Linked DNA regions of Homo sapiens. The protein of the gene in region 3 interacts with the protein of the main gene of each other region in a pairwise test. Each region holds a gene or a part of one and is shown on either strand. Other genes may lie near its edges.

The links. Proteins that work in one complex are often made in the same cells at the same time.
Region 1: the proteins of NTAQ1 (region 3) and NDUFAB1 interact in binary tests that used the Homo sapiens proteins (3 or more experiments, as listed by UniProt).
Region 2: the proteins of NTAQ1 (region 3) and KRTAP9-8 interact in binary tests that used the Homo sapiens proteins (3 or more experiments, as listed by UniProt).
Region 4: the proteins of NTAQ1 (region 3) and THAP6 interact in binary tests that used the Homo sapiens proteins (3 or more experiments, as listed by UniProt).

What each region holds. Positions count from the first base shown.
Region 1 is NC_000016.10:23,586,317-23,589,816, forward strand, and holds part of NDUFAB1 (acyl carrier protein, mitochondrial precursor), read right to left. Parts: intron 1,004-3,500; coding exon 881-1,003; intron 1-880. UniProt on the Homo sapiens protein: Carrier of the growing fatty acid chain in fatty acid biosynthesis.
Region 2 is NC_000017.11:41,236,564-41,239,504, reverse strand, and holds KRTAP9-8 (keratin-associated protein 9-8), read right to left. Parts: upstream 1,507-2,941; 5' UTR 1,454-1,506; coding exon 974-1,453; 3' UTR 501-973; downstream 1-500. UniProt on the Homo sapiens protein: In the hair cortex, hair keratin intermediate filaments are embedded in an interfilamentous matrix, consisting of hair keratin-associated proteins (KRTAP), which are essential for the formation of a rigid and resistant hair shaft through their extensive disulfide bond cross-linking with abundant cysteine residues of hair keratins.
Region 3 is NC_000008.11:123,430,274-123,433,773, reverse strand, and holds part of NTAQ1 (protein N-terminal glutamine amidohydrolase), read right to left. Parts: intron 1-3,500. UniProt on the Homo sapiens protein: Mediates the side-chain deamidation of N-terminal glutamine residues to glutamate, an important step in N-end rule pathway of protein degradation.
Region 4 is NC_000004.12:75,524,473-75,527,499, reverse strand, and holds part of THAP6 (THAP domain-containing protein 6), read right to left. Parts: intron 541-3,027; coding exon 286-540; 3' UTR 71-285; coding exon of another isoform or gene 41-70; 3' UTR 1-40.

The DNA of each region.
Region 1 (3,500 bases), on a different chromosome or scaffold from region 3:
TTACCTACACAACAGATTCAATTTTTTTTCGTTGTTAGATGGAGTTTCACCCTGTCATCCAGGCTGCAGTGTGCAGTGGCATGATCTCGGCTCACTGCACCCTCTCCCTCCCGGGTTCAAGCAATTCTCTGCCTCATCCTCCCGAGTGGCTGGGATTACAGGTGTCTGCCACCACGCCTGTCTAATTTGTGTATTTTTAGTAGAGATGGGGTTTCACCATCTTGGCCAGGCTGCTCTTCATTTCCTGACCTCATGATCCACTCGCCTCGGCCTCCCAAAGTGCTGGGATTACAGGCGTGAGCTACCACGCCCGGCCCCACTTGTGTTTTTATTATTTATTATTATTTTTGAGATGGAGTTTCACTCTTGTTGCCTAGGCTGGACTGCAATCACGCTATCTCGGCTCACTGCAACCTCCACCTCCCGGGTTCAAGTGATTCTGCTGCCTCAGCCTCCCGAGTAGCTGGGATTACAGGTATGTGCCACCATGCCCGGCTAATTTTGTATTTTTAGTAGAGATGAAGTTTCTACATGTTAGTCAGGCTGGTCTTGAATTCCCGACCTCAGGTGATCCGCCCGCCTCGGCCTCCCAAAGTGCTGGGATTACAGGCATGAGCCACAGTGCCCGGCCAGTTGTGTTTTTTAAAAAGGGTGAGAGATACATACATATAATATACACACGTGTGTATACTTCTTTAACATATGCATTGAGTACCTTTGGAAACATACATGAAACTGGTAGCGCTGGCTATCTCCCAGAATGGGCCTGGGTGTCTGGGAGCCAGGGAGATTTTTACTGAGTATCTTTCCCTTTGCATTTTCTAGCATGTAATTAAATACTCTATATTTAAAGAAAAAAATTCAAACCACCATCAGTTACCTTCTCTGGGTCAATCTTGTCATAGAGTTTCAATACGTAAAGAACACGGTCCTGGATGCCCTCTAACGTCAAAGGAGGCATGTCGCTATACTGGCGGCACAACTGTGTAACTCTACCAGGAACCTAGAGCGACGGCAGGAAGGAAACACTGTCATTGAATGGAAAATACCTCTAAATCAATGCACAAGCCTATAGGTAACTTTCACAGAACTTTCGGGGCTTTAGAGAACCCACAGCATCTGATTCTCATTGTGGCCACCAGGACACACTAAGTTGCAGGACTGGGTAATCGCAGAAGCCCCAACAGTTCAGCAGCATCTCAGGCCTCCTTCCTGGGAGTCAGGACCGGCCCCTCTGCCTCCTGGCTTCAACCCTCAGGCTCTGGACATTCATACTGCTCTGCGACACTAACTGCCACTAAAATTGTCTAGCGTCTGCAGAATGCCTGTGTCTTCTCATGGCATCTTCAGCATCCCGAGGCCTCTACAGGGTGCTGCCACCTTTAATAGGCTGACCCAAGTCAAAATAACCCAAAAGGAAAGAGCTGTCATGGTAAACCCAAAGGCAATTCAAATTGAGGACCATACACCAGAAAGGTCTAGTTTGGTTCCAGCAGTTATCTCCCTGATCTCAGCCAGGACAAAGGAAGCTGGCCTCCCACCCAAAGAGGGGATGAGGGAGCTTACAGTCACTACATTCCAATCTGTTTCCCTTCCAGCGAGGCTTGCCTCATGGCCACCAGCCAAACCATGAGCCCTTCTGGCCTGTGCCATGTTAGAGCAATACCTCACGTATCTCTGGTATTAGTCGGCTCAATGTTTAGGTATTAGGGTATTGACCAGATTTCATTCAACAAATGTGGAATGAGCTGCAATTACAGGTCAGGGGGTTTAATGCTGTGGAAGGTACGACGCAGAATCAGAGAAAACAAAACAGGGTATCTGGCAGTTTTGCTCACTACTGAAATCCCTAATCTGGCTAGTCGTGGTGGCTCACGCCTATAATCACAACACTTTGGGAGGCCACGGTGAGCAGATCACCTGAGGTCAGGAGTTCGAGACCAGCCTGGCCAACATGGTGAAACCCCGTCTCTACTAAAAATACAAAAATTAGCCAGGCGTGGTGGTGGGCGCCTGTAATCCCAGCTACTCAGGAGACTGAGGAAGGAGAATCGCTTGAATGTGGGAGGAGAGGTTGCAGTGAGCCGAGCCTGCGCCATTGCATTCCAGCCTGGGCGACAAAGCAAGACTCCGTCTCAAAAAAAAGAAAAAGAAAGAAATCCCTAATCTAAATTGGTTTGTTTACCTCCTGAAGTTGATTTTAAGTCCGAGGCTTGGCGTTCTTCAGGCATTTCCCTATAGAAAGTGGGGCTGCTTGTTAGGGCTCAGGTCCCTGAAACTCACAAAGGTCCATGAAAAATCATAATAAATACTGCCCAGAGAACCAAACCAGTATAACCTCTGTAGAAGAAACATTCATCTTGCATAAAGAACAGGTATTGGGCCGATGTGTGTCTCACACCTGTAATCCCAGCACTTTGGGAGGCCGAGGTGAGCCAATCACTTGAGGCCAGGAGTTCGAGACCAGCCTGGCCAACATGGTGAAGCCTCGTCTCTACTAAAAATACAAAAATTAGCTGGGCGTGGTGGTGTGTGCCTGTAATCCCAGCTATTCAGGTAGCTGAGGCATGAGAATTGCTTGAACCCAGACAGAGGTTGCAGTGAGCCGAGACTGTGCCACTGCACTCCACCTTGGGCCACAGAGCGAGACTCTGTCTCAAAAAAGAAAAGAAAAAGAAGTCAGTTATTAAAATCAGGTTTAGGCTGGGCGCAGTGGCTCACACCTGTAATTGCCACACTTTGGGAAGCCGAAGCAGGCGGATCACGAGGTCAGGAGTTCGACACTAGCCTGACCAACATGGAGAAACCCCGTCTCTACCAAAAATATAAGTTAGCTGGGCGTGGTAACATGTGCCTGTAATCCCATCTACTCAGGAGGCTGAAGCAGAAGAATCGCTTGAACTTGGGAGTCGGAGGTTGCAGTGAGCCAAGATCATGCCATTTACACTCCAGCATGGGTGACAGAGTGAGATTCCGTCTCAAGAAAAAAAAAAAAAAAATCAGGTTTAATCAGCAAACTAAAGAGATGAGTTGGAGAGTATGATAGATATTCTAACGAGCCTTTCTGAGTACTTTCAAGAGTTTTAGAGCATGTTTCTTTGTCTAAATGTCTAGTCTCCTTTCGTATTATACATGGGTTAAGGAGACCTTTTATACAGGCACATGACCGGCCTACTTAACAATGACTCAAATAGGTTTCCAAGTCACAAATAAAATGGAGAAGAAAGGAATAAAGAGAAAGGGGGAGAAGAAATGAGGTAATATGGCAATGGCAGAAAAGAAATTTCAGTTGGAGGGATCTAACAGAGGCTGTGTGCTTATCAAGAAATGGTACGAGGCCAGGTGTGGTGGCTCACGCCTGTAATCCCAGCACTTTGGGAGGCCAAGGTGGGCGGATCTCTTGAGGTCAGGAGTTTAAGACCAGCCTGCCCAACACAGTGAAACCTCCATCTCTACTGAAAGTCCAAAAATTAGCCGGGCATCGTGGCGTGTGCCTATAA
Region 2 (2,941 bases), on a different chromosome or scaffold from region 3:
CAAGCATTTTTTGATGCAGATGAATTGAATGAATGACTGGTCAGAGGATGAGACAAAAAGAGATCCCTGCTTTCAGGGCAGCCATTAAATGCAGTCCCTGCTGCCATATCATGCAGCTGTTGCTCACTGAGGTGTGGGAAACTTATTTGGGAAAACTTTTTTGTGAACAAAAATGTTATCTGCAAATATAAGAGATCATTCCTCTCATTGTTAAATAAACTCAAGTGCATGTCTTGCTAGTGCTGACTTCCAATGTCATTTCTACTATGTTGAGAGTTAAATGTAAGTGTCCTTGGGCAGAAAGAGAGGACCTCAGCTTGGATCAGAATCTGTCCTTTATTAGCTACATAACATCACATATTAATTTTTTTTCAGGTGAAAAATGAAGGTAATAATGCATGACCACCTGTTTTGAGAATCAAATTGGATAATAACTATGGTATGTGATATGTGTGTAAATCCCATATCAGGAGTGCTTTCAAATAAAACAAAACACTATATGAGATGAGGATGGTTCAGAATTTATTCAGAAACATATAGGTAAGGATTTCTGCTACCAGGGACACAACACAAATTTATCATGAAAAGAAGAAAGAAGGATACAAGAACGATGAGGAGGATATTGAAAACAAAAAAAAGATTGCAAAGATCATCGATCAGTTGCAGAAACCTAAATTCCTTAGAAGCAGGGAATGAAGCTCTTGACTTTAGAGTCAAAGCTGAGACCATGACTCAAACTTGAGAACAGATGAAGCTGGCACATGATCCACAAGGTGTAAGGAAAAAGAGAATCAGGATGAAGTATTCTGCCCTCCCTCAAGCAGATTTCCAAGATTTTAAACATGTAGAGAATTCATAAAAATTTGGGTGAGAGCATGGTGGCTGTCAGCAGCAAATTAAATTAGTCCCCCAAAAGATGAGTCAGTTGAGCAGAAATTTGTTGTGTGAGGATGGTGGTTCTCTTGGAACGTGATCAGCAGCAAGAAGGCTGGCAGCAGCTGGACACACAGGTGGGCTGGAAGCAAGTGGTCCTGCAGCAGGTGGTCTCACAGCAGGCTGGGCGGCAGCAGGGCTGGCAGCAGTTGGAGCCACAGCTCTGGTTTAGGCAACCAGGCAGGCAGACAGTCGTGGGGTGGTAGCAGGTTCTTCTGCAGTACACAGGTGCACAGGAGCTGCTCTGACCACAGCTGGACCCACAGCTGGTTTGGCCACAGCAGGTGGGCTGACAGCAGGGTGTGCTGCAGCAGGAAGGCTGGCAGCAGCTGGTCACACAGATGGGCTGGCAGCAGGTGTTTTGACAGCAAGTTGGGCGGCAGCAAGGCTGGCAGCAGCTGGACACACAGCAGGAGGGCTGGCAGCAGGGTGTGCTGCTGCAGGTGGTCACAGTGGTGGGCTTCCAGCAGGTGGTCCTGCAGCACGTAGGCTGACAGCAAGGGGAACAACAGTGGGTCATGGTGTCAGGGGTAGAGGGTGGAGTTCTGTTCAGAGGTGAGTTTCCCAGAATCTGATGACCCCTTGCATTCTGGACCTTTTATACACCTGGCCTCCAAAGTTTCCACCAATCAGCAGGACTTTTCCTTGTTGCTGTTTATCTTGTTTTCCACAGTCCGTTTGTGATTCTCAAAGGGTAGTTGTTTCCTTAAGGTTAAACAGATTAAGGTTTAATCTGTTTCTTAATTGTGAATTACTCATAGACACTTTGTTTGAGATAAAAGGAAGCCCGTCTCATCATCAGCATCATTCCTATTCTGACCATCATCTAGTCATGTGATAGTTCCTGTTGATCTGGGAGGCTCAGGAAGCTCTCTGGCCAGCCTCATGTTTGGCTGTATATAGACTGGGAAGTGTCTGTGGGGAGAAGCATGATGCTGATATATTTACAGTGACAAAATGAATCCATGCCTGGGCCCAAGGCTAGTCACCCACCAAATTCTGACTCAAGACTAACAGGCATCTCTCTGTACCACCCTCACCACCTGTGCCTTTCCGTTATTTGAACGTCACTTGGGAAGAGGGTGTCTGTCACAGTGTGTTCCATGTGGCAGAGCAGATCGAGAGCAGGGGGATGCAGAGAAATTCACTGGGATTTAGACAACATCAAGCAAACTATGCCCTGAGTGACCATTCATTCTGACTTGTCTGTGAGTGTGGCGATTCCAGGACGAGAATGTAGGACTCTCTATGACATAACTGCTTGAGATTCAGGCCAACCAGCATGTGCTCTGGCTCTAGCTGCAACCCAGTTACCAGCACAGTAAGCATCATGTCTTCTCTCTCTATTTCTTTTTAATGAAGGAATTAGATGAGTTGAGATGATGCCTGATTCATCATGGAGTTCTAACATGTTTAAAACATTTTCTAGGTATACCATTCATTTGAGAAAATGCAAACTATTAATTTTCAACTTGATATAGTATTATATTGTAAATACATTTATGTCCCATTACATCTATGTTAGGAAATAGAAATTAATTCCATTCTCTCCCAATTATATGCTCTTACTCTTTCCCAAAGACAGCTAATCACTCTATCAGTTGTAATCCTGTAGGTAACTTTTGGCTTTTTAAAATTTTCATGTGAATAAAAAGTATAGTATTTGCTTCTCTATTTCTTTGGCATAAACAAAAGTAATCTTTATCGCCTAGTCATTTTGGACTCTTCATATAAGCAAAGCAGCAGACAGAGAAAGTAGTTACTATTTGGTGAGGGATAATTACCCTCAAGCCATATAGTGTAGCAGAATATATCTATAGCTCAGGAGATTTACTGAGTATATTAATTTACTAGCACTGCCCTGATGAATTACTGAAAAAAAGTGGCTTAAATTTATTTATCAAAGTTCTGAAGGCCTCTTTTCTGAAATTAAGGTGTTGGCAATGTTGTTTTCATCTGAAGACTGCGAGGGAAGTATCTGTTCCAGGTCTCCCTCCCTGACGTGTCG
Region 3 (3,500 bases):
ATCAACCCTTTTAAAAGACAACCAAAGGCTGGGCATGGTAGCTCATGCCTGTAATCCCAGCACTTTGGGAGGCCGAGGCAGGTGGATCACATGAGGTCAGGAGTTCAAGACCAGCCTGGTCAACATAGTGAGACCCCGTCTCTACTAAAAATACAACAACGAGCCGGGCATGGTGGCATGCACCTGTAGCCCCAGCTACTCAGGAGGCTGAGGCACGAGAATCACTTGAACCCAGGAGACAGAGGTTGCACTGAGCTAAGATCATGCCACTGCACTCCAGCCTGGGCAACAGAGCAAGAATCTGTCTCAAAAACAAATAAATAAATAAAAATAAAAAATTAAAGCCAACCAAGAAAGGAAGAGGACAGGAGCCCAATGGCCAAAGAGAGTTTCACAGAGGAAAGGACCCCATTGCAGAATCTTGCCTGATGGGGACAGCTTTCCAGAAAGAAGGTACAACTTGTGAAAAGGCATACATAATGACTATTCACAACTCTCTAGTAAGTTCAGGTCCACATTCCTATACACTAGGCAGCTGAGGGACTGCAAAGGAAAAGGGTTGGCCCAAAATTGCCTTCATGGCACAGATGAGGAGCCAAGGAATGCAGGCTTGAGCAGCGGCCTCACTCTCTGAGTTGGTTCAGTGTCTGCCCAGCTGCCAGGAAAAGACTGATTGTGCTAGGAGTGGGGATGTCACCTACAGATGCCACCATCTGCTCCATGTTATTTGGTCTAAGATAGAAGGACTATAGGCATGTTTTCTTTTAACTTTTTGTTTTGAAATTATTACAGGAGGACAGGCACAGTGGCTCACGCCTGTACTCCCAGCAATTTGGGAGGCCGAGGCGGGCGGATCACTTGAGGTCAGGAGTTCGAGATCAGCCTGGCCAACATGGCAAAATCCCATCTCTACTAAAAATAAAAAAATTAGCCAGGCGTGTGCCACATGCCTGTAATTCCAGCTACTCGGGAGGCTGAGGCAGAGGAATTGCTTAAACCTTGGGGGTCAGAGTTTGCAGTGAGCCGAGATCACACCACTGCACTCCAGCCTAGGCGACAGAGTGAGACTCCATCTCAAAAAAAAAATACATAAATAAAATTTAAAAAAAGAAATTATTATAGGAATGATTTTTTTTTTTGAGATGAAGTCTCATTGTATCGCCCAGGATGGAGTACAGTGGTATGATCTCGGCTCACTGTGACCTCTGCCTCCCAGGTTCAAGCAATTCTCCTGCCTCAGGCACCCAAGTAGCTGGGACTACAAGCGCCCACCACCACGCTAATTTTTGTATTTTTAATAGAGACAGGGTTTCACCATGTTGATGAGGCTGGTCTCGAACTCCTGACCTCATGGGATCTGCCTGCCTCTGCATCCCAAAGTGCTGGGATTACAGGTGTGAGCCACCACGCCCAACCTGAAATTATTATAGGAATGATTTTAAATGGCTAATGTGGCAGATATATTTGTGATGTCATAGACTTTTATCCATTTAGCATGGGAAGGGACTTTGGCAATATGTAGTCTGGCTACACATTAGAATTATCCAGAGACTGCGTTAACAATGTAGTTTTCTGATTTAGTAAATCTAGAAAGGGGTTCAGGATTTAGTGTTCTCGAATTTTACTCACTACTACTCACTGGTGTCTCTGCTCACTCAGCGAGGCCTACCCATGCCCTACAACAGGACAGCAGCGAGGCAAAGCAAAACCTGCCAGAGGGTGTGGGGAGACTTCTTGCAACAGGATTCCCCATCTTGAGCTGCCATGAGATGTGTAAGGGAGACATGGCTACAGGTCCTTCCCCTCCAAGTTTCCCTAGGATGGGGAGTAAGACCACGACTCAAAATCAGCTAAGCTGTTCAGCAACAGGGATGATTTCTCGTGCACACGGACCATCTATAACAGGGGTTAGGTATCACTGCTAACAGTAACTGCCAACACTTCCTGAGTACCAGTAGCAGACACCAGGAAGATGCTTCCTGTGCATTACCTCATTTAAGCCTCACGACCCCACTGACCAGGGGGAGACACTGAAGACAGAGGGTAAATAACCTATCTGGATCCCACAGCTGACCAATGAGAGGCCTGGGACTTAAACCCAGTATGCCTAACTCCAGAGCCTGTGCTCCTAACCCTAGAGCTGAGGGGCTTGGGCTTTCATGCAAGAGCAGCTTTCATGCAAGATCACCTGCTGGCAACGAAACTGAGAACGTCAGCTCTGTGAGGTCAGGGATTTTAATCTGTTTTTAGCCTGGCATATAAAACACACTCAATATATACATGTTAAATAAATGAGCGAAGCCAATCAAATGATACATAATTTTAAATAAATACCCAGAAACTAGGAGTTTGTTCCAATTCATCAGTGTCATTTTCCTTTTACTTTGCTTTCGTGTTTATTAGCATAAAAACTCTATTTTTTTTTTTTTTTTTTTTGATATGGAGTTTCATTCTTTTTGCCCAGGCTGGAATGCAATGGCGTCACCTCAGCTCACTGCAACCTCTGCCTCCCAGGTTCAAGCAATTCTCCTGCCTCAGCCTCCCGAGTAGCTGGGATTACAGGCACACGCCATCACACCCAGCTAATTTTTGTACTTTAGTAGAGACGGGGTTTTACCATGTTGACCAGGCTGGTCTTGAACTCCTGACCTCAGGTGATCCACCCACCTCGGCCTCCCAAAGTTCTGGGATTATAGGCATGAGCCACCGTGCCCAACCCTAGCCTCCATTCTTTAGGGGAATGGGTTAAGGTGACATGTAGATGTGTACTAAAAAGGACCCAGGTGTGAGACCCAGTTCTGCCACTGACCATGCCACTCTGAGCTACTCAGTTTGCTCTTCTGTGTTTATTTCTTCCCTGAAAAATAAAGGGGTGGGAGTAGATCCGTATTTTTCAAATGCCAGTCATGTTCACCTAGGAGTTCATCAAGAACACTAACTCCTGAACCCCTCTCTAGATTTACTAAATCAGAAAACTACATTATTTATTTATTGAGACAGGGTCTCTCTCTGTCACCCAAGCTGGAGTACAGTGAAGCAATCTCAGCTCGCTGCAGCCTCCACCTCCCGGGTTCAAGCAATTCTCCTGCCTCAACCTCCCGAGTAGCTGGGACTACAGGTGAGTGCCACCAGGCTCAGTTAATCTTTGTATTTTTTTTAGTAGAGACGGAGTTTTGCCATGTTGGCCAGACTGGCCTCAAACTCCTGGCCTCAAGTGATCCACCTACCTCAGCCTCTCAAAGTGCTGGAATTACAGGCATGAGCCACTGCGCCCGGCCTAATATTTGTATTATTATTAGAGATGGTGTTTCGCCATGTTGGCCAAGCTGGTCTTGAACTCCTGGCCTCAAGTGATCCGTCCACCTTGGCCTCCCAAACTGCTGGGATTACAGGTGTGAGCCACCGCGCCCAGCCGAAAACTACATTTTTAACAGTCTCCAGATAATTCTAATGTGTAGCCAAAGTTCCTTCCTGTGCTAAATGGTAAGAGTCTAGATCAC
Region 4 (3,027 bases), on a different chromosome or scaffold from region 3:
TTTCTTTAGCTCTGTGAAATTTTCTTGAGATTTTAACATCTTACAATAGTGACCTGGCACTAGTGTAGGTCTATAAAACATAATTGTCACAAGACACAAATACATAATTACCACAAATTTCTGCATATTTTCAAAAAAGTCTTTGGATAACAACTATAATGCATAATGCTCCAGAGAATCCAAAGCAGCACTTTAAATGATGGATATTATTTAGTGATGGTAAATGAGATTTTATAAAAATTTGTACCAATGACAATTTTAGGTGGAACGTAACATGAAATTATTTCATGAAATATAGTCCTGTTCTATGCTCTCCTGACAACAGTCCCAACAGAAAGTGTCCAGTCTATTTGCTGTTTCTTGGCTGATCAGACATTCATCCTTTAATTCCCTGATTGTCTTCCTCAATGATTTCTGAAAACGTTTTTCTCGGTCTAAAACATTCCGTAGACTTTCCTTTGTATCCTCTAGCTCGCCGATCACATGATCTAATTTATGCTTAAGTTTCTTTGGACTGTCCATTACACTGTAGCTATGTTCCTAAAAACATAAACACCAAGTTATTAAATCAGACAGATATGTAGTTGGATAAAAGCTTATAACTAGGTCTAAGCTGTTTCTTCATTTACAATGCCTGGAGAACATTTTTAAGTTGGTGATAGAGGTTTAAGGAACACAGGAAGAAGATGGGGGTAGAAGCAATATTTAGGGTGCTAAGGGCATCCCTCCTTTTACTAAGGCCAGGCATACACAAAGACTGCAGAATATTATGGATGGGAAGCACTTATCTCTATGAATAGCATGACACTTGCAATGACTCTACAGCTTTTGTTCATTCAATGTGGTGCTGCTAAGTTTAATTTTTACCTATCAAACAAATTTAAATTAAGTTTTTAACTGGGTTACTTTATTGGATGGCTATTGCATTTGATAAGGTGTGACAGGAAAAGAGTACTGCAGCAGGTTCTCAGGCTCGGTGTTGGGGATTTAGAGAGGACTCTGGTCTTGGAATTTTCAAGAGACAACTCCTCTTGGTGTTTATTATGGTTATGCTTAAATTTGCTGGGTATGCTTTTATTCCTTTTTCATTTGAGAATAGGGAAAATAACACTGACATAGCTTATAAAGGTACTATAAAATAATTTTGAAAAGCTATTATTTAATATTAAAATTAGTAAAGAAGACTTTTATTTCCAGCCAAGATGAAGTAACAGAGACTGGATTGACCCCTACCTCCAAGAACCAACACAAGGCTAAAAGACAGAAAAAAATAGCTCTTAAGATAATGGATATTTGGCAAGGACAGCAGCTATTGTGGACAGATGGGAAGCAAAGAGGTGAGACCTAAGACTGCTCCAGCTAACTGCCTGAGAGTTTCTCGGCCTCAGGGCAAGGAAGGGAAACCCAGGCAGAGCTTAGCAGACTGAGCTGAGGAGGTAGTGCAAAACATCCAGGGAGACCAAAGTAGCTACAGTTCACAGGACAAAGTACTAGACAGGTGAGAGCTGCACAGAAAAAACTCAAGATCTTCAGAGGCTCCCCTTTGAGTATTCCATGGAGTAAGATCAGCACATGCACATGAGGAAACTACTCAAGGCTGAGGAAAGAACAACCAGAGATTAGGAGTGCCCTGTGCTCACAGGGTATAGCCACTATTCCCACTAGCCAGACTTGAAAATGTCAAGATTCATGGACACTAAGTATGCAAAACAGTCTTGTCAAACAAAGTAAAATCTGAAAGGGTCGAACAGTTTCTAACTAACTGTACTCCAGAACAATGCTCAAGAAAACATGATACAAAAATATCTAGCATCTGGCAAATTAAAACCCAAAATTCATGGCATGCAAAATTTACCAGGCATGCAAATAAGCAGGAAAACATTAGTCATAATAAGAGATAAATCAATCAATGGAAACCAAGCCGGAACTGACACAAATGTTAGAATTAGCAGACAATTAAGAAAGTTATTAAAATTGTATTCTATATATTCAAAAAGTTAAGTACATAAAATATATAAAAAAGACTCTAATAGAATATCTACAGATAACTGATGTGTGAGGTAAAAAAATACACTGGAGAGAATGGCAGTGTATTTTTTGAAGAAGAAAAGATTTCGTGAATGTAAAGTTACAGCAACAGGAACTATCCAGTATGGACTACAGAGAGAAAAGGAGATAGAAAAAAAATAAAGCATCAGTAACATGTTGCACAATTTCAGACAGCCTAATATACACATAATTAGAATTCCTGAAGGAGGGGAAAAATTGGGATAGAAAGAAATATTTGAAGAAATCATGGCCAAAATTTTTCCAAGTTTGATAAAAAGTATAAACTGCTAAATAAAAAAGCTCAACAAATCTTAATTACAAGAAATATGAAGAAAATGAAACCAAGGCATATCATCATCAGATTAGGCAAAAGCAGTAGAAAAAAACAAAAATTATTGTCCAGCACGGTGGCTCACGCCTGGCCCAGCACTTAGGGAGGCCGAGGCAGGGGGATCGCCTGAGCTTAGGAGTTTGAGACCAGCCTGGGCAACATGGAGAAATCTGGTCTCTACAAAAACAAACAAAAATTAGCTTGGCATGGTGGCACATGTCTGTAAGTCCCAGCTACTCAGGAGGCTGAGGTGGAGGGATTGCTTGAGCCTGGGAGGTTGACGCTGCAGTGAGTTGTGAGTGTGCCACTGCACTCTAGCATGGGTGACAGAGGGAAACCCTGTCTCCAAAAATAAATAAATAAAAAATTTAAAAAAAGAAAAATTCTTAAAAGCAAAGAAAAAAAGAAGTATTAGGTACAGAGAATAAAGGTGAGTATGACATTAATTAAATTTTTCATTAGAAATGGTGCATGTAAGAATACAGCAGGGCAACGTCTTAAAAAGTACCAAAAACAACTGCCCCCGCCCCCAAAACTGTTAACCTAGAATTTGATTACCTAGTGAAAATATCTTTCAAAAGTGAAGATTAAACTTTTTAAGCAACAGAAATACTGAAAGAATTCATCACCAGCATAGTTGCACTATA